4 linked regions of the Homo sapiens genome follow. The protein of the gene in region 4 purifies or fractionates together with the protein of the main gene of each other region. This does not show direct contact. Each region holds a gene or a part of one and is shown on either strand. Other genes may lie near its edges.

Region 1 (5,426 bases), on a different chromosome or scaffold from region 4:
GTCACATATTATAAATGGCTACCATATCTGACAGCATAGATAGAGAATATGTTCGTATTGCAGAAAGTTCTACTGGATAGCACTGTTCTGAGGACGTTAAAATGAGTAAGAAAGAGAAAAAGGCAGGGAAGGAGGCAAGGGAGAGAAAGTGATTAACAAATTCCCTCTCCCGCTGTGTTTAACATCGTATTGGCTCTCATGTAACTGCCAAGACAGACGCTGCTCTGCAGTATTGGAGTTCTATCACACCTCCTCTCCAGAAAGATGTTTGAGAGATTGCTGCCTTATGAATCCCCTAGTCATATAGGATTGTTGGAGCAAGGCATTGAGTTAGGGGTGGAGCCAGGGTTAGGTTTAAGGAAAGGTAATTTAATGGATGAAGGAGGCCCCCATGCATGCCCTAGCATCATGCCCAGAATCCGAGATGCATAAAACATTGACTCGCCACTGGAAAGCTGCAAGAGTAGGTGCAGTTGTCTCTGGTGCCCAGTGAGTCTTCTGCTATTCATGGTCAGACAACATGATACTAATATATTGCTCAGACTAAGTCATAGGTTAATACAGTCTATTTTATTTGACATTTCTCATTAGAGAAAATCGGCCAGCTCATCTTTCTAAATTTTATTTATTTACATCTGCTATTTACAATCATAAACATTCTTATTCACTGCAAATAAACATGGGCAGCCTATCTCCTCCCCTCCACACTGTATGATGGATAATATGGAAATTCAAACCACACATCTTCTTTGCCACAAATCTGTAGTGAAATGACAGCCTTCTATAGACCCTCTGACCCTCAGAGATTTTCTTCCTTTTGGAGACATTTTGAGTATCTTTTTGACCATAATCAACATCTTATCAGGTAGGTCTCTTGTTCTAAGTAGCCGTTTCAAACTCTGAGGGTGTCCAGTGTCTATGAGCTTCCTGCCACTCACAATATTTATACTAGACGTTGCCAGGGGAAGAGAAGAGAGTCCAAAAATATGTCCAAATGCTGCCCTGTGAAGGTTGCTATTTATTTTCACAAACCTCAGGGCTGCATTCAGTTTCCCGTCTACCTGTGTAGGCAGCCATTTCTTCAGTGTATTCCCTATGTTCTAATTGGCTCGCTGTACAGATTCTTGGCTCTGTGCTTAGGAATTGTCATTGACTTTTAACCCACCTCACCTGCTGAGCAGCTTTCTGTGTTTTCATTAGTATTTCAGGCACCGAATCTCATTTTTAAAGTTATTATCAGGATTTTAATTGGTGGTTCTCACTATTCACCCTTAAGTTTAGTAATATTTAAATTTTTATTTTGTTGCATTTAATAAAAGAATCATAAAGAAAGAAAAATAATTAGGGAGAGAAAATAATTTCTTTAGAGGGAAAATGGAGGATTCCTTAGACTGAAGGCTGGTCAGTTAATGGGAATTGTGACTTATGCAGAGGATCTAATAATTGTAAGTATCATGGTTTTACTTGTTTGAATTAATAACTTTAAAAAATCTCAGTCTTGCATTAGCATATTTTCTGTCTCTTAACAACCGAAAATAACTGAAACTTTCCCAACATCTACTAAAATGGAAAGTTTGTCATTTTCTACTATGACCTGAGGGTTTGGCTACAAACAGATAATGGAATGAATAAGATGAGCATTCAAGTTATACCTGCCTGTTTAATATGGGGAGAAACTAAACCACCTGTAAAGAAAGCATGGGGTGAGAAGCCCCCATCACCTGTATAACCCTCGGTATTTCTGTTCACTTTAAGAGCCTGCCACTGAAAACATTCAGTAAAGGAGTGAATCTTCCTTGCCCCATCAAGAGTCGCTTTTCAGCTGGAGGAAGGGTGTGTCCCCAAGTTTTTACCTGGGAGCAATGATGATCTTGTCAAGCATTTCAGTGAGACCAGCCCAAGTTTTTAGGGTGGGGATCCAGACTGGTTATACGTACCTTCAGTCCTTCTCCCAGAGGAAGGCAGAAACACCTCAAAGCCTGCATGTAAGAACATCTACTGAGAAATTATTTTAATCAGACACCAGCTGAGTGGGAGAAAGAAAAAGAACAGAGAAGAACAAACAAAACTCCCTTGGTCTTGGATGTAAGAGAATCCAGCAGAGATGGACTGGAGTTTCTTCAGAGTAGTTGCAATGCTGTTCATTTTTCTGGTGAGTGGATTCTGGTAAAAGTCCTTCATAATCGTGCCCATTGTAAACAAGTGAAAACTTTTTAGAAAATGTTAGTGGGCATTATTTCTAACCTAAACCCATTGAAAATGTATATTAATGACAAGATGATTTTATGAACTAGATTTTTCAATAGCATTTCTCTCTTTAATTGAAGACTCAAGATCATGTTAATGCCTCAGTGTCAACTCATTGTATTACATCTCTGACACTGAAGTCATTGCTAAGTCATGCTGGGAAAAGACTGAATTTAGGAAATTCCTATCGCTAGTTAGTAGCACTTTGTCGTTCAAAATCTCTTCTGCAAGAGGGCTTTTAAACTAAATATCACAAGTGTGTCTGGATTTTTAACCTGTTTTTTTTTTTATTTTTTTTGTGTGTTTGGTGGTGGAATTACTCTAATTTTTAAAACATAAAAATAGCACCACATAATTTAAAATCGTAGCAGTTTGTGGCTGGTCTCGCTATCCAAATAAAGTCATCAGTTGCATATTTGGTTAGAATCTGTATCACTACTATAAAAAGCCCCGCACTATTTAACTATGATTTTATTTAAAACATTTTTAATTTCAAAAAACGGCAGTACAGGAGGTTTATAAATGACATATTAAGTGAAGAAGTGGCTATAATTAAAGAGTAAGTATAATTATTATTACACTCGATCTTACTACTGGAATGTCAGTGATGACTGCGATATAAAAGTTGTGCACTTGATCGTCTGACGAATGTAATGAAATACTTTATCATTGCCCCCTTACATGTAATTAGTTTTCTTGCTGTAGAGATAATACTAAGTGCACCACTAATGTATTATGTCAATTTCACTTTCAGTGAAAATTTGAAAATTGTAATCTCTCTCATAGTAAGGTTAATGTAATTCAAAAAGGCAGGTGCCAAGTAAATTGCCCTCCAGCTTGGCAGGATGTATAGTGCTGTGGTTCACATTTGTTTCTACTTGCTTAATTTTTGAACTGGAATGTTGGGTTGGTTGGTATAATAAGTTAGATCTTTGATTCAAAGTATGCTGGTTAGTTTGAATTCAGTTTTATTAACTAAGGCGGGACATAATCAGTGGATTTAGTTATAAATGAGCATCAGTAAGCTGGTGGCTTTGGTTCCAAGCTTTCCTTCAAACATTAGTCCTATCCCATGCTCTTTTCAGTGGATATTTAGGATCAGTTGATTTCATTACTTAGGATTTGGTAGGGATCACTGATCATTATACAGTATGTCATTTGAAATATGAGAGTTTCATATTGTCAGTAATCAAGCACTTTTACTTAAAATTTCAAATAAATTTGATCCATTAAGAGCTATTATAGTTTTAGTTGATCAGCTTGTTCAGATAGGTGTACACTAACTTTCATAGAATCTCTAAGATGTGCCTTATTTGTTGATTTATTTATTTCAAATTAATTATAGCATATCAAATTTCTTTAAACAGCCACTTCCTATTTAGTCATTCTTCAATAAAATGTATCATCATCAAAATCATATATCTTTATTGAACTTTCTCTAGCTGTGCCTAGATTTTTTTTTGTTGGCTTATGGGGGTTTTTTTGGGAATGGGGGAAGAGGAGGTTACCTTATTTTATATTGAAATTAATCACAAGTCTCCCACATGCCTTATGAAAATTTTTTCTCAAAGAACTTACACTATCATGAATTACAATGTTTCATTTTCACGTTGACATCATAGGTTTTTTTGGAAAACATTTCACTTTCTAAGGTTTGGAAGATCAAAATTTATTTTAAGTACAGATTTTACCACATGGGATAATTTTGGTAATTGTGCTTTGGAGTTTCCTAATCTGTATTTTTCTTTAAAATACTTTTTTTCTTCATAAAACAACCACCACTATAGCAAATTCTTTCAGTTATCTTTCTCCTAGTCTCATTATAAATGCATGCTTTTACCAAAAAATGAAAAAAAATTTATGTAAAGTCTTTATATTCGTCTCTACTCAAAGTCAATAAGCGGGAACCTGCATTAGGAAGCGTATTTGTACAATTGTTAAGGCCTTTAAGATATTTAAATTGGTAGTGTCTTTTAAGCAAATCTACCTGAGAACTGGGTAACTATTTGTTTGCAAGCATACTGTGTATTCATCTCAATGCATCTGAAGGTTGTGAACCTTGTTCAAATGAGTGGGTTGAATCAGGGAGAACAAAGCTGGAGGAGCTGCTCTTACAGCAATCAAGATCGCTCTATGGCTATTCCATTGTTCTGACAAGTCTCCTGGACAGGCAAGAGATTACACCTGCTATAACACTGCAAGTCAAACACATTTTGTTAATTCTGCATCTATTTTTCATTCTTCTTTTTGTTTCCATGTAATCAGTGTATGGAGTAGAGAAAGGAGTTAGAATGTATTTTCTCTAGGCCTGAGAACAATGCTTCTTATGCACCAAATAAAAGAAATCTATGTGCATGTATATGACAATGGTAAAAAGTACAGCATGGTCACTGTGGGAAAGCAAAACAGAGCCAGAGGGATCTCTATGGTTTTAATGATTTCTGAAAATTACTTGCAACTTTGCCAGGTCCAATTAGTCCATTTAAGTCAATACAAATCTGAAGATGTCTTTTTCTAAAAAGGTAAATTTCTGCAGCTCAAGCTCAAAGAACAGAGAAAATGACTTTTATCTATGACCATGAATGATCTGATTATTTTGGTTCATTATAGTAACCATTTTCCCCCTCTTTCTATGGGTTAATATTTCATTTCGAAACAAACAAACAAAAAAAAACCCAACCCTCTGACACCTGATAAACTAACTCCACAGTTTGAACCGAACTGAAATTCTGTAAAATATGAGCAGGAGTTTTTAAGAGTACTTTCATCACTCAGGCTAAAATACACAGAAAATAATACACATTTCATTACATAGTTCCTAAACTTACTTGAAGACATCTTAAGTCCCCAAAATTGTGTTCACAGATGCCTAAAGCAAGAGAAGAACTAACAAATTAGTACAGACCAAACAGAAGACAAGCAAAAGAGAGAGCTCTTTGTGCTTTCTTGAGCGTGTATTATAGTGATATGTAGTATAGAGATCAGTGTTTCAGTAAAATATTTTGTAGAAAATGGAAGGAATATTTCTGTTCACGTATTCAGTGAAACTTACAAATTGCATTCAAGTGTCATCATTAACAGTTATATGGTGTTCATAAAAGCTTTATTATTTCGCTGTAGATTTAGGATTAGCATCTTCTATCACCTTTACAGAAACAAGGAGTACACATTTATCATCG
Region 2 (4,655 bases), on a different chromosome or scaffold from region 4:
CACCTTCACGCTGAGTTTCTTGAGGAAGAGCCTTTGCGCTTTGCGTTCAGTCAGCACCGCAGGGAAAACTCATGAGGAGGAACCTGTTGGACCCTCAAACTGCTTGATCGGTTGAGTGCAGGCCCAGAAAGTACATTCTAGGCAAAAGACAGCCCCAAATGCCAACAGGAAATAGTTCCCAAGGGAAAAGGCCAATAATATGGCTTAGCATTTTGCAGAACGTTGGCCTAAGGAAAGCTATTCTCATTTCCCCACCAACCAGGACTATCTTCAATATCAAAATCACATGCCTTGGGACTTCATAGCCCTGGGAGTTAAAATGCCCAGCCCTGTCTGAAATGGACCAGCAGGCAAGAGATACTACTGTCCCAGGAAGACCCCGGTGCACACCCATGGCTGCCCCATCTCCTAGCTCCTGGCTGTCTTAGTTAGGGGGGTCTCCTGTTTTTTTTTTTTTTTTTTTTTGAGATGGAGTCTCGCTCTCTCACCCAGGCTGGAGTGCAGTGGTGCGATCTTGGCTCACTGCAAACTCCGCCTCCCGGGGTTCAAGTGATTCCCCTGCCTCAGCCTCCTGAGTAGCTGGGATTACAGGCATGTGTTACCATACCCGGCTAATTTTTGTATTTTTAGTAGAGACAGGGTTTTACCATGTTGGCCAGGCTGGTCTCAAACTCCTGGCCTCAAGTGATCTGCCTGCCCCAGCCTCCCAAAGTGGTGGGATTACAGGCGTGAGCCACCGTGCTCAGCTGGTCTCTTGTTCTTGGTGGGACCTCTGAAAGTCTTCAGTGTGGCCTGTGCTGGAGGAAGTAGGAGAGGAGAAGGGGACAGTTGAACCAAGACCACCTCATGGTCTTGGGACACTCCAGCTCAGTTCCTCCTTTTTTATGACCACCCCGTCCCCTACGCTCACACCCCCTGGGAAGCTCCTGGTCCTGGTCCTAGAGGACTTGCCTGGCGTGGGCACAGCTTTGTGACTCCACACGTTGTAATGGGGTTCCCCTGCGTGTAGCCCAGCAATTCGGTGTGACTTCACTCAAGTATTCTCTTGTACACCTACGCTTTTTCTCCTGGCCTTATTCTAAGCACACTGAGCATGTGCCTCCTGTCCTGAAGCTCTATTTCTAGACCCAGATCCAGGTGGAGACCGCCCAGTGCCACCCGCTGGGTTCTGGTATCAGAAATAGATTCTCGTTTGGGTCAAAAGAGAATTATCTGGAAGTCAAAGCCCCTTGCTACAGGGAAACCTGCAGGGAAGATCCCTTTATATTTAAGATTAAACAGATCACATTGCAAAGCCACAGAGGAGCTGCTAAAATGAAAGAGCTGAGAGGAGCTTGGCCTAAGGGAGTCACGGATGCAGCCTCTGTCACAGTGTCGCTGCAGCAGTGACATGGACCCCTTCAGCTGTAGGAGAAGAGGAGAGGCGGGGTGGGGGAAGGGGTGCGTGGCATCTGAGATGCAGGAACATCTGTTCCCAGGCCCTTGGGGAGCCCTCCGTATGCTATGATGCTATCTGGGATTCTCCGTCTGCTTCCCCGTGAAGGGCTCCTGCGTGTCCCGGGTGGCCTGGTTCTGGGTGGGCATCAGCTACAGCACAAGTCACTGGGAGTTAGGGCACTTCCTGGCCACCCTGGGTGTACCGAGTGGTTCAGCATTAAGGAGCCTTGGGCTGCTCGGTGAGGAGCACCCTACCTCTCAGGTTGTTGGTTTTAGCAAATAAAACTACACACCACCCAGTTACATTTGAGTTTCAGATAAGCAAATGGGCCTCCACATTCTGTCTGGGGGCGCCTAGCCATGGCCCAGGGAGACAATTTGTTGTTCTGAGGGCTTTCCAGAGGCTGAGGGGTGCCAGGAAGGCTGAGCGGCCAGGGTGATCTGAACCTCCCTGGGCTGTGCCTGTCACCACCAGCAGTGTGCCTGCCATCCCCCGCTACCTGGCAAGTTCCCGGGCTGCACGAGTAAACAAGTATCCCAAGCCACAGGCGCCAGGGAGCCCGCAGGGCCTGGCCTGGGGTGCGTGCTTTTCTTGGCTTTCCAACCCAGCCCACGAGAGGGCATCCTTAGAGGGGCTCCAGAGCAGATGTGGACTGAACTTTCTCTCCTCCTCCCCAGCAGCCATCATCGCCAAGCCAGGAGAGTGGCTCCCAAGAGGACGCCAGGAAGAGCCTCGCCCAGCCCCCACGGGGACCCCCCGCCAGCCAAGGGAGGCGCCCCAGGACCCAGGCAATGGAGTGACCACCAGGTAAGGGGGATATCACAAGGCCTCGAACCTGACTCTCGGAGCTCTGGGAGTGGGCGCCCCACGCCGGATGCAGAGCACCCAGGAGACCTGGAAGGCTCCTCTGAGGCCCAGCCTCTGACAGGGGAGGCTAAGGAGCAGTGTCAAGATTCCCAGCGGAGTGCAGCCGCCACTCCTGACCACCTCGGAGGGCTGTGCTGCCTGAGAGCCATCAGTCAGACGGGAAGGACACAGCACTCAGAAGCATGCCCATGGGACTAGTTTTCAAAACTGCCAGGCGGACTTGTCCAGGGCTGGGTGATGGGGTGACTTAGGGACAGTGTCCTGTCAGCTTTTTGCATTTGGAGGAAGTGGGCTGTAGGGCAGAAAGATGGAGAAGGAGGTGAGTAAATGGTTTGGCTCAGAGGTCACTTCCTGAAACAGAAACTGGGCCTCCAGGCTGGGGCGTGGTGGCGCACGCCTGTAATCCCAACACTTTGGGAGGCTGAGGCAGGAGGATTGCTTGAGCCCAGGAGTTTGAAACTAGCCTGGGCAACATAGTGAGACCCTGTCTCAAAAAAAAAAAAAAAATCAAAAAACTAAAAAAAAAAAAAGAAAAGAAAAAACTGGACCCCCGAGCAGAAGAAAAAAAAAAATAGTGTCCTCTCTTCCACTGTGCCACGTGAGCACAGACTGGCCCTGTGGGTTATTAGGGGTTCTTTAGGGTCTAGAAAGGACCTTTCCAATCTCGCCAGCTCTTTCTTTTGGATCTGGAGAAACCTGCTCAGGGAGAGGGGCCTGGCCTGGGTCTCAGACCCTGCCTGTCCCTGACCACCAGGCATGCCAGCTGCCCCTCACCACTTCCTCCTGGCCATGAAGGAAGCCAACCTCCTGCGGTAAAATATGGGGCTGGAGCAGGCTCAGCTTAGTTCTGGGGGCCCCCGGAGAGGACAGGCAGGAAGACTGAGCAGAACCTGCACCCACTGGTGGAGAAAATCGGAGAGAGAAAGAGGCAGGAAGAGAAATCAATGGGGAGTGGCAGACAGGAGGAGGATGTAAGAGAAAGGGGGCGCAGACAAGTGTGCTGAGCTTCCTTGGGTGGGATGGGCTAGAAGCCGAAATCGGAACTGTGGGAAGGATGGGAAGGACTTCAAGACCTGGGCTAGGGAAGGGTGGGGGCAGTCCCAGCTATCTTTAAGAAGCACGGGGTCAAAGGTGGCTGCATTACTGGGGGAGGGGCCAAGCCTCTGGACTCCTCCAGTTCCACTGCCAACCTGCCTGGGGACCCAGGGACCTACCTCCCCTACCTGGGCCTCCTCCCCTCTTTCTGTGGCTGAAGAGGAGCTTGTCAGCTAGACCAGGGGTTCTCAGGCTCTCAGCATCCCCCTGAAATGGGGACTCAAAATGAGAGACCTCTGAGGAGTGGGCTAGAGCTATCTCATGCCCCCAGTCCAGACTGGATCCTCCCCTGCGGTTCAGCCAGGCCAAACCTACGCTTCCGGTATAGGCCACTTCTTTTTACTTCCTGCAAATGCTGAGTTCATTTCTGAGGCTCTCCACTGGGGACAGCCCTCTCTCCCCAGAAATAACTGTTTTCACAGTAGGTAGGCAGCCGACCCTGAGGGACCTCATTACATCAAGCAGCGTTGCCTAGCTGGCCCCCCAAGATTCTACTGAGCACAAAGACCCCTCAGGGTCCAACCCAGAGGTGCCCTCCCCTTGGTGTCAGTCACTGAAGCCAGCTCTTATTTTAAGCCTGGGAGTTCAGTGTGAGGAAGAAGAGGATGGAAGGAGGGAGAAGTACAAGTTGTTCCATCTTCCTCTTCCTCCCTCACTGGCAACGTCATCTAGAATATTTCGGCATTCTAGATGAGAGATATATATATACCTCATATGTATATGGTATACCTCATCTAGAATGCTGTAATATTCTAAATCACAAGTGGCCATCTCTTGTCAGGCTGACTTCAGCCCCAATTCAGGTCTCACTGAAGCATCCCTTCCTCCTGCCTGACCCCAAAGTGCGGGTCACGCCCTTCTGCCAGGCTCACAGAAGCCACAGTCCCTCCACGGGGCGGAGACCCCACTGTGTTGTCATGTGGCTGCCTCTCACTGCCTCAGAGACAAGCGCAGTGTGCAGGGCACAGAGAGCGTGCAGGGCCTGCTGGGTATACGGGGAATGCAGGGCTGCAGGGAGTGTGCACAGTGTGCAAGGTATTCAGGAAGTGCAGGGCTGCAGGGAGTGTGCAAGGAGTGCAGGGAATGCAGGGCATGCAGGAGTGTGCACAGAGTGCCAGGAGTGCAGGGCATCTGTGCTGTGCTTCTGCACCTGGCCTAGGTGGTTAGAGTACTTGTTGATGAACAAGTAGGAGAAAGGGAGAAAGAGTGGTTCTCTATGTGGCTTTGGTGGGGAACGTTTGTCCCCTCAACTTCC
Region 3 (3,936 bases), 360 kb from region 4:
TTGTAAATGTACTGCCTCATGAATTGTTATATATAAAGTATTCAAATAAACTTTAGATTCTATTATTATTGTTGTTGTTGTTATCACACAGTGCTCATCTGGCTGGAATTTTCCCTGCTCAGCGTTCTTTGGAATTGAAGCCTGGTAGTGAGGTCCTGAAAGGTAAGAATGGGGGAGCCTAAGGGGCATGAGAAGGCTGAGGGGAGGCAGTCTAGACTCCAGCCTGGGGCCTAGGATCATTAAGCACCCACCCAGTTTCCAAATGAACCTAGAATAACCTGATGTTCCATGAAACAAACCATTTTTTGGAGGTCTTGTGTCATATTGGGCCAGAGACCACTGGGCCAAACTGTGCTCAGCAACCTAGACCAGCAGAAGTTACCTTGGAAGCCCACAGAACACTCATTTAGGCTGAGTGAAGTGAGGTGAATCTATAGTTAAATTCTCAATTTTTCATACACTGTGCCAAAAGCTACACTTAGCTTTAGATTAGATTCTCAATTTTAGTTTGATTCTCTGAGCTACACTTAGCTTTTGGCACAGTGTATGAAAAATTGAGAATCTAACTATAACTTGGATAAGTCCTGAAGACTCAAGTGACCTGGAAACAGCTTCATTAGAGACAGATCACATAGGCATCACTCATAACTTATAGGAAAAGGAGACTGACTTGTTTCCTGAGGAAGGGAACAGGAATCATTTATCTAGTGTTTGGGAAAACCCAATGTCAAGCACAGACATGCCCTGCCTCTGACTGAGGAGCCAGGCATACTGGGGAGGAATCTTGCCAATGCAACACCATCCCTTCTCCTTGTGATCTCTGGTGCTTCATTTAGATGCCATTAAATTGCCTCATTGCTGCCCTATAAAAGGTCTCCCCACCTGCTAGTTTTTCAGATCACTGACTTCTTCCAGTCTTGCTCCTATCAGCAAAGAGGGTAAGTCTCTATACGGGATAAGGACATGGTGAGAAACAGAGCTTTGGGGAAGCTGGGGTGGGATGAGAGCTGTGGGATGAAGGGTGAGCGAGGACTAGATGCTTAGGAAATCTGCTGAAGGAGGCTGAAAGCAATGCTGGTGGGAAACTTGGAGCCTGGGGCATGAGAGGAGAGGGAGGGGGACACGATGAGCTGGCATTCCTGTTTAAGAAGGGACTTTAGAGAACTGGCTCCCCATCCCCTTATCTGAATGCAATTGTGCAGTCCTCTCTTGGGTCTATGTGCTAATGAGGCCAACTGATTAGTCCAGCTGGTTCAAGGAGCACCTGGTAGAAACCTGCTCAAATTTAGCCTTGTTCTTTGCTCAGTACCGGGCACAGCTTGAGGCTCATGTTGGCTCAGGGTCCATGGACATAAATTTGTCTTTGCTGGGTATTCCTTGTCTGGGCAGAAGGAAGAAGGGAAGTCACCCTGGAGAGAACTGGTGGCAGGGGTCAATCATCTGGGAGCAGCAATTTCCAAAGGGTAATTCACAATGCAGACACTGAAGAAAGAGGAGAGGAGGCTTGGAGAGTTGGGTAGAAACACAGGCAGCACCATTTCAAGCCTCCATTTCCCAATATAGAGACTGAGGCCCAGAGGTAAGCGATGACTTGTACCAAGCCACATAGCCAGGTACAGGCACAGAAGCTGAGCTGAGAGTCCCTGGCTCTGAATCCACCTCCTGCCAAGTATACAGCCTCTGGATGTCTGCAACCTTCTCAAGAAAGCCTTGCTTGCAAATCACTGTATTCAAAGGGGATGTTGAAGGTTTCCCCTAGAAACCTTCCTGGTTTTACAGTTCTAATGAAACCTTTCTTTTCAGATTTTGCAAAGCCACAGAACAATGTGTGACCAGCAGAAGCAGCCACAGTTCCCTCCATCTTGTGTGAAAGGTTCGGGACTAGGGGCTGGGCAGGGTAGCAATGGTGCCTCTGTGAAATGCCCAGTTCCATGCCAGACCCAAACTGTCTGTGTGACAGGCCCTGCTCCATGCCCTACTCAAACTTATGTGAAGTACCAAGTTCCATGCCAGACTCAAACCTACGTGAAGTGCCCAGCTCCCTGCCAGAGGACCTATGTGAAATACCCAACACCCTGCCAAACCTATGTGAAGTGCCCAGCTCCCTGCCAGACAACCTATGTAAAATGCCCAACTCCCTGCCAAACCTACGTGAAGTGCCCAGCTCCCTGCCAGATGACCTACATCAAAAGTCCAGCTCCCTGCCAGACCCAGACGTGCTATGTCCAGGGTGCTTCTCCTTGCCAGAGCTATTATGTTCAAGCTCCTGCAAGTGGCTCAACCTCCCAGTACTGTGTCACTGACCCATGCTCTGCTCCCTGTTCCACCAGCTACTGCTGTCTGGCTCCCCGGACCTTCGGGGTGAGTCCCCTGAGACGCTGGATTCAGCGGCCCCAGAACTGCAACACAGGATCATCTGGCTGCTGTGAGAATTCGGGAAGCTCTGGATGCTGTGGTTCTGGGGGCTGTGGCTGCAGCTGTGGATGTGGCAGCTCTGGGTGCTGCTGTTTGGGAATTATCCCCATGAGGTCCCGAGGTCCTGCATGCTGTGACCATGAGGATGACTGCTGCTGCTAAACATACGACAGCTCAACTCCAGAATGCACTGCCCCGCTACCCCTTCTGGAACATGCACCAGCTTCTGGCCCCCTCTCTGTTAGTGCCAGTGATGTAGAACCTCATCACTTTGCCTCTGTGCTTTGCTTCTCTACCAAGGCAGCCTGCCAGAGTTAGTACAGTCCCCAAACTTTGGCATGAATAAAGCTCTGAATGCATTTCGTGGTAATTTCTGTCTGTTTGTTTGGTCCATATTTATGCTTTTCTATCAGGCACTCTTCTGCATCCCTCTCTTCTTACTCTTGTTTCTCAGCTAGAGGAAAGATCTGCACGAACATGAACAAGCAGACTGAGCTGGTGAAATCCCAGCCTGGGAGCCCCATGCCTTCTAGAATGCTGTGAATAAACTTTCCCACGCAAGTTAGAAGCATCTGAAAATGGAGATTTGAGGGTTGGGGCTGTTTCTGTGCTGCCCTTTGATGAGCCTCAGAGCAGGGTTGACCATGATGAGACCCTCATCTTCCTGGGTGTTGGAGAGATTGTGAAATTGTATCTGCTCATGGACCAGTATCACTGGTCATGGTCAGTATCACTGGACCATGTCTCCACCACTGTGCAGAGGGCTTGAACCCATGCAGGACTTTATGAATTACATTTTCTCATCTGACAGGCTTGCCCTGTTGAAACTATAGGTTGAAGGCCTGAGGGAAAAGGCTAGGAGCCCCCTGAAGTGGGTAGGTATTCACCAGGTCAGTCCTGGTAGTAAGTGAGCCATCTCCAAAGGAAGGTGAATCTTGTGCGAGGGGCTTCTGGGCCCCCTTCTGGGCCCCTCACCCTAGTTAGCTTTTTCTTCTCCATTGCTTAGCTAGCTCTAGAGAATTTGGGGTGGACTTTTGTAACTAAAGATTCCAAATACACACATTAAAAAAATAGAGGAGTAACAAGTGTTCAAAACAATCCCACAAGGTCTGGTGCATAGGAGACAATGTTTGGTGATGTATAAATGAACGCATAAAGGAATGAATGAAAAAGGGAATCATGTGTTTGTTTCTAACCCTGGACACTAGCAGAAGATCATCTTGACTACTCTGCTGCCTTTGAATGTCTAAACACCTGTATCTCCACAAACAGCACAATATCCCTTCATCCAAACTCCCTAAACTTACAGCCCAGTCACTGGAAACCCACTCAGGGAAGGAACTGCCTTGGCCAGGGCCACACTTTCCTCTTGTACCACCAACTGGGTCCTGCAATGTTGGAGGATGGGGTGCTAAAGTTCCCTGTGGTCTAGTCTCTTTAGAGAATGGTATCTGCAAAGCCCAACTCAGCACTGAAAATATTGTAGGGAATCCTCTTTAAAACCCAATGCAAACTTCTAAA
Region 4 (5,436 bases):
CAGAGTTCTCAACTATAATGCTGGAGTGACAGTGCAAAAATGCTTTAAAATTCTGTCTCAGTGTGGAGTCTGGGGCCTGAAAGTCTTTCTGACACAGCAGCCATCTTAACAAAAATGCACTTCCAAAAGATGCATATGATTGAAAATGACCATAGTATCCAACAGCAACCATAACTTTCTGTGTGGTTGTTTTGGTCTAGGATTCCTTGGCTATGTGAGCAATTGACATATTTCAAGGGCCTATTCATTAACATTTTATGAACAGACACTCATTCTTAGTGTTTACCAAGCTCTAGGTGCTGCCTAGATGGTGGAATGAATAAGATATGATGACTGGCCCAAAGCAATGCCCAGATAGGAGTTTATTGACTCCATATATGTAGAATATATATGGTTAAGTGCTAGGCTTTAGCATCGGCTAGCATGTGTATCTGTTCTAGTGCTGCTACTAACTAGCTGCGATTTGTAACAAATGTTTACATTGCTCTATGCTTTTATTACCTTATCTATAAAATGGGGTTATTTTGAGGAATAAATAGATAAGCATGTAAACCTACCATGTATAGAAGATAGTAAGCACTTAGCACTTAATGGTAGCTGCTATCCTCCTCATCATCATCATTATCACCTGGTAGCAAAGTACAGCAGAATTGGCTCTCCATGCTTAAGACTTACAGCTCTCTGATTATTTTTGTTACCCTCAAGTGTATTTGATATACTTTCTGTACATAAGTGAACATTTTCCCAAGGGTCCAGGCCCTAAACATGCCAGACTACCAGTGGATCGCAGAGTGCTGGAAGAAAGCTCACTCTAAATTCACCCTGAACATATCTGAAAACATTATTTTTATATATAGCCAATTACACTTTTCTAGCCTAGAAATGAGCCTTCACAAGGTCAGAGAATGTTTCCTCTCTTCCTAACAGCACTCTGTATGTTACTTTTTTATATTATTTGCGTTTGAGTGGGCCTTACACTCCTAAAATGGTGCATAATTTTTGCATGATAGTTATATATGATAAATACACAGAGGTAAGTTAGTATAATGGTAAACAGCAATTGCAATAAGGTAGATACAGGTTCAACTTCTGGTTTCTCTGCCTACTAGCTATGACCTTGGAGAAGATCCTTATGCTTCCAGAACCTGTCTCTATAAAATGGGATAATAAATACATATCTCGTATGAAGGTTGTGAAGATTAAATGAGGTGATAAGATCTAGTATTTGGTAACATAATATGGTAACTATAGTTAACTATTTATTGTATATTTTTAAATAACTAAAATAGTAGAATTAGAATGTTCCTACTACAAAGAAATGCTTGAGGTGCTGGATACCCCAATTACTGTAATTTGATCATTACACATGGTATGCCCATATCAAAACATCACATGTACCCAACAATTATATACAACTATGTACCCATAACTAAAAGTGCAGATTTTTTAAAGATTGAGATGGTTTGTTTAAAGTATTTAGCACATAGTAAATTCTCAATAAATGTCACTTTTTATTATTACAAAAAAGACATGAATTAGATGAACCTAGTGGCTCAGGTTCATTTTCAATTAAATAAGCATTTATTGTGCACCTTCCAAGTATCTTACACTCTGCTACTTTCTGTGGGTACTAGTTAAAAGAAATGTATAACATGAGTCCTCTAAAACAAAGTCTGTGCTTTTCACATGTATATGACCCTGAAAAAAAAGGTATCTTGCAACCATGTCCTCGTACTGGAAGGTGGGGCTGGTACTAGCCTTTCTGCAATCATCTGTAGATAACAATGTGAAGGAGGAAGGTAAATATGTAGAGGTGGAGTTAGGTTTGATGGAAAATGAATCACCTCATTCACTATAATCACTATAAGCTATATAAGGGTCATTATCCCAATCCATCGTCACCCTGCAAGCTGCATCAGGCTTTATCCTACTTGTTCCTTTGGTGAACCAGGTGAGAGAAAATTCATCCAGCTACATTTATGAATATTTGGTGTTGTCCATAGTAGAAGTCTAGGGATATAAGCTAAGGCAGAGTTCATGTATATTTTGCCTTTCTTTTCTTTTTTGTTTCTTTCTTTCATTTTCTTTTCTTTTTGTTTGCTTATTTGTTTGGTTAGTTTAGTTTATTCTGGGGCCTTTTTGTAGTTAAGTTCATTTTTATGGAGAAGAATAATGCAAGTAAAAGTTCACCTTCCTCTAGGCCATTCCACAGTCTGTTCCGAGTCTTTTTCCATGCCCTCTTTTCTGGGCTGTCCAGCTCAAACTGGGAGGCAGCTGGGTCTGTTGCAGAGTCCCTTCCTTATTCAGTGTTGGTTCCCAGAGCTCCAAGATCTAATTATCCACTAGTTAAACTGCTGCCTGCATTGCTGAGCTCTTCTTCTTGATTAATTAAAGAAAACAGTGTTTGGTCAAGTGCTTGACATTAAGAGAGTTCCTAAGCTCTACTGAGTTCTACTGTCTCATGCCTATGAAACACCAAGCTATTTTGAGCCCCTTTGCCCATTTTTAATTTGCTGAAGGCCTTAAGGGTCCAGTTTAGCTTCTGGTGCCCAGAGGATAAACAGATGTGCATGGTGGAAGGTCTGTCACTTTTGACTCAAGAAAAGCAGTGAAACTAGAAAGAGAGATTGAGGCAATGGTGTCTGGCTGGTTCTGGAAATTTTGGAAGCCTTAGAACAACACCCAGAATGCCAACACACTCAAAGTGTAGAGATACTATGTAGAGACTATACTTACCCATGACAGGAAATATAGAGACTTGAGGTCTATTCTCAGTTGAACCAGTAACATGCCAAGACTTGATCACAGAAAAGTAACTCAAAGTTAACAAAGTTAATTTTCATTGTGTTAAACGGGGTTGTATCATCCCTGGCCCATTCTTACGTTTTGAGATTTAAAAAACAAGAGGTTAAAAAAATCATGCTGGTTATTATTAAAATGAAAATTGCTGATAAAAGGAGAGAATATGAATAATAGGGTTCTTTGTTTTTCTGTGTCCAGGTTCACTTAAACTTGCAAAAAGATGACCGACCTCTTGAGAAGTGTTGTCACCGTAATTGATGTTTTCTACAAATACACCAAGCAAGATGGGGAGTGTGGCACACTGAGCAAGGGTGAACTAAAGGAACTTCTGGAGAAAGAGCTTCATCCAGTTCTGAAGGTGAGAGCCATGTGCCAGAACTGAAGGCTGCTGGAGTCCTGTACAAGCTCTGTTGTATGACCCAGATCAGCTAAAAAGTGCACAGCCCCAGTGAACTCTAAGCAAACTCTATGAGTGGTATTTTGGGGATGCCAGAAAGTCTGTTAAAGCAGCAGATATTTTAAAGAAAGTGAATGTTTCGTCCTCACTTTTCCACCTATGCACTCCTACCTCATAGACTCTCAGACTTTCTCATACACCCAGGCTTTTCCTTAGAAAAAGCAGAAAATAAAATTATACTAGGACACGAATTAATAAATTATCCTATCAAATGGAAAAAAAAGTATAGAAAGGGAAATCATCTACATAGGGAGTTGACAAAATAGCCATGATTAAGAATCAAAAATAAAATGCCAGCATTTTATTCCATCTACTTAAAAAGGACTCAGCTAGGCGCGGTGGCTCATGCCTGTAATCCCAGCACTTTGGGAGGCCGAAGTGGGTGAATCACAAGGTAAGGAGATCAAGACCATCCTGGCTAATACGGTGAAACCCCATCTCTACTAAAAATACAAAAAATTAGCCGGGCGTGGTTGCATGCCCCTGTAGTCCCAGCTACTCGGGAGGCTGAGGCAGGAGAATGGCGTGAACCTGGGAGGCAGAGCTTGCAGTGAGCAGAGATCGCACCACTGCACTCCAGCCTGGGCTACAGAGCAAGACTCCATCTCAAAAAAAAAAAAAAGACTCAGTTATTAACTTCAAAATAATAGATGATAAATTCCAACATGGAAGATATTAACATGTAATAGTTACAATTTATGTAAAACTTAGAAATACCAGTTACTGAACTTAGTTTATTCCACTCCTTCCTGTAGGCCTTACCTAAGCACTTAATCCTTTAGCCTAAATCCTTGAAATGTCTTCTTCTGAGGATCCCAGTAGTCTTTATTTTCTATTAACCCTTAACATTTACTGGGTTCTATTAACCTAAAGTAATCCTTTATTGGACTAAAACTACATCATGTCAAACATCCATAATTTCACAGCGCTATTTAAATGTGTTAGTTGAGTATGCAGGTTAGGCTGACCAGGTCTCCCTTGGTGTGTCACTCATATACAGAACCCAGATGATCCAGACACAGTGGATGTCATCATGCATATGCTGGATCGAGATCATGACAGAAGATTGGACTTTACTGAGTTTCTTTTGATGATATTCAAGCTGACTATGGCCTGCAACAAGGTCCTCAGCAAAGAATACTGCAAAGCTTCAGGGTCAAAGAAGCATAGGCGTGGTCACCGACACCAAGAAGAAGAAAGTGAAACAGAAGAGGATGAAGAGGATACACCAGGACATAAATCAGGTTACAGACATTCAAGTTGGAGTGAGGGAGAGGAGCATGGATATAGTTCTGGGCACTCAAGGGGAACTGTGAAATGTAGACATGGGTCCAACTCCAGGAGGCTAGGAAGACAAGGTAATTTATCCAGCTCTGGGAACCAAGAGGGATCTCAGAAAAGATACCACAGGTCCAGCTGTGGTCATTCATGGAGTGGTGGCAAAGACAGACATGGTTCCAGCTCTGTAGAACTGAGAGAAAGAATAAACAAGTCACACATTAGCCCTTCTAGGGAATCTGGGGAGGAGTATGAATCTGGATCTGGATCAAACAGTTGGGAAAGGAAAGGTCATGGTGGTCTGTCATGTGGATTGGAGACTAGTGGGCATGAATCAAACTCTACTCAGTCAAGAATTAGAGAACAAAAGCTTGGGTCTAGCTGTTCAGGTTCAGGAGACAGTGGGAGGCGAAGTCATGCATGTGGTTATAGCAATTCAAGTGGGTGTGGAAGGCCACAAAATGCTTCAAGTTCTTGTCAGTCACATAGATTTGGAGGGCAAGGAAATCAATTTAGCTATATTCAGTCAGGCTGTCAGTCAGGAATTAAGGGAGGACAAGGCCATGGCTGTGTCTCAGGAGGTCAGCCCTCTGGATGTGGTCAACCTGAGTCTAACCCCTGTAGTCAGTCCTATAGTCAGAGAGGATATGGAGCTAGAGAAAATGGTCAACCACAGAACTGTGGAGGACAATGGAGAACAGGCTCAAGTCAGTCCTCTTGCTGTGGACAATATGGGTCTGGAGGTAGCCAGTCTTGTAGTAATGGTCAACATGAATATGGTTCCTGTGGCCGCTTTTCAAACTCTTCTAGTTCAAATGAATTTTCCAAATGTGATCAATATGGGTCTGGTTCAAGTCAGTCTACTAGCTTTGAACAACATGGAACAGGCTTGAGTCAGT

What was found.
Region 1: the proteins of FLG2 (region 4) and DSG1 purify together in Homo sapiens (affinity purification with mass spectrometry, with the first as the bait; one large-scale study listed by BioGRID). This does not show direct contact.
Region 2: the proteins of FLG2 (region 4) and ARMC9 purify together in Homo sapiens (co-immunoprecipitation; one large-scale study listed by IntAct). This does not show direct contact.
Region 3: the proteins of FLG2 (region 4) and KPLCE purify together in Homo sapiens (affinity purification with mass spectrometry, with the first as the bait; one large-scale study listed by BioGRID). This does not show direct contact.

Annotation. Positions count from the first base shown.
Region 1 is NC_000018.10:31,316,197-31,321,622, forward strand, and holds the start of DSG1 (desmoglein-1 preproprotein), read left to right. Parts: upstream 1-1,963; 5' UTR 1,964-2,104; coding exon 2,105-2,152; intron 2,153-5,426. UniProt on the Homo sapiens protein: Component of intercellular desmosome junctions. Involved in the interaction of plaque proteins and intermediate filaments mediating cell-cell adhesion.
Region 2 is NC_000002.12:231,358,639-231,363,293, forward strand, and holds part of ARMC9 (lisH domain-containing protein ARMC9), read left to right. Parts: intron 1-2,115; coding exon 2,116-2,245; intron 2,246-4,069; exon of another isoform or gene 4,070-4,155; intron 4,156-4,655. UniProt on the Homo sapiens protein: Involved in ciliogenesis. It is required for appropriate acetylation and polyglutamylation of ciliary microtubules, and regulation of cilium length. Acts as a positive regulator of hedgehog (Hh)signaling.
Region 3 is NC_000001.11:152,717,698-152,721,633, forward strand, and holds KPLCE (protein KPLCE), read left to right. Parts: upstream 1-1,824; coding exon 1,825-2,577; 3' UTR 2,578-2,773; downstream 2,774-3,936.
Region 4 is NC_000001.11:152,356,471-152,361,906, reverse strand, and holds the start of FLG2 (filaggrin-2), read left to right. Parts: upstream 1-1,900; 5' UTR 1,901-1,951; intron 1,952-3,000; 5' UTR 3,001-3,022; coding exon 3,023-3,160; intron 3,161-4,259; coding exon 4,260-5,436. UniProt on the Homo sapiens protein: Essential for normal cell-cell adhesion in the cornified cell layers. Important for proper integrity and mechanical strength of the stratum corneum of the epidermis.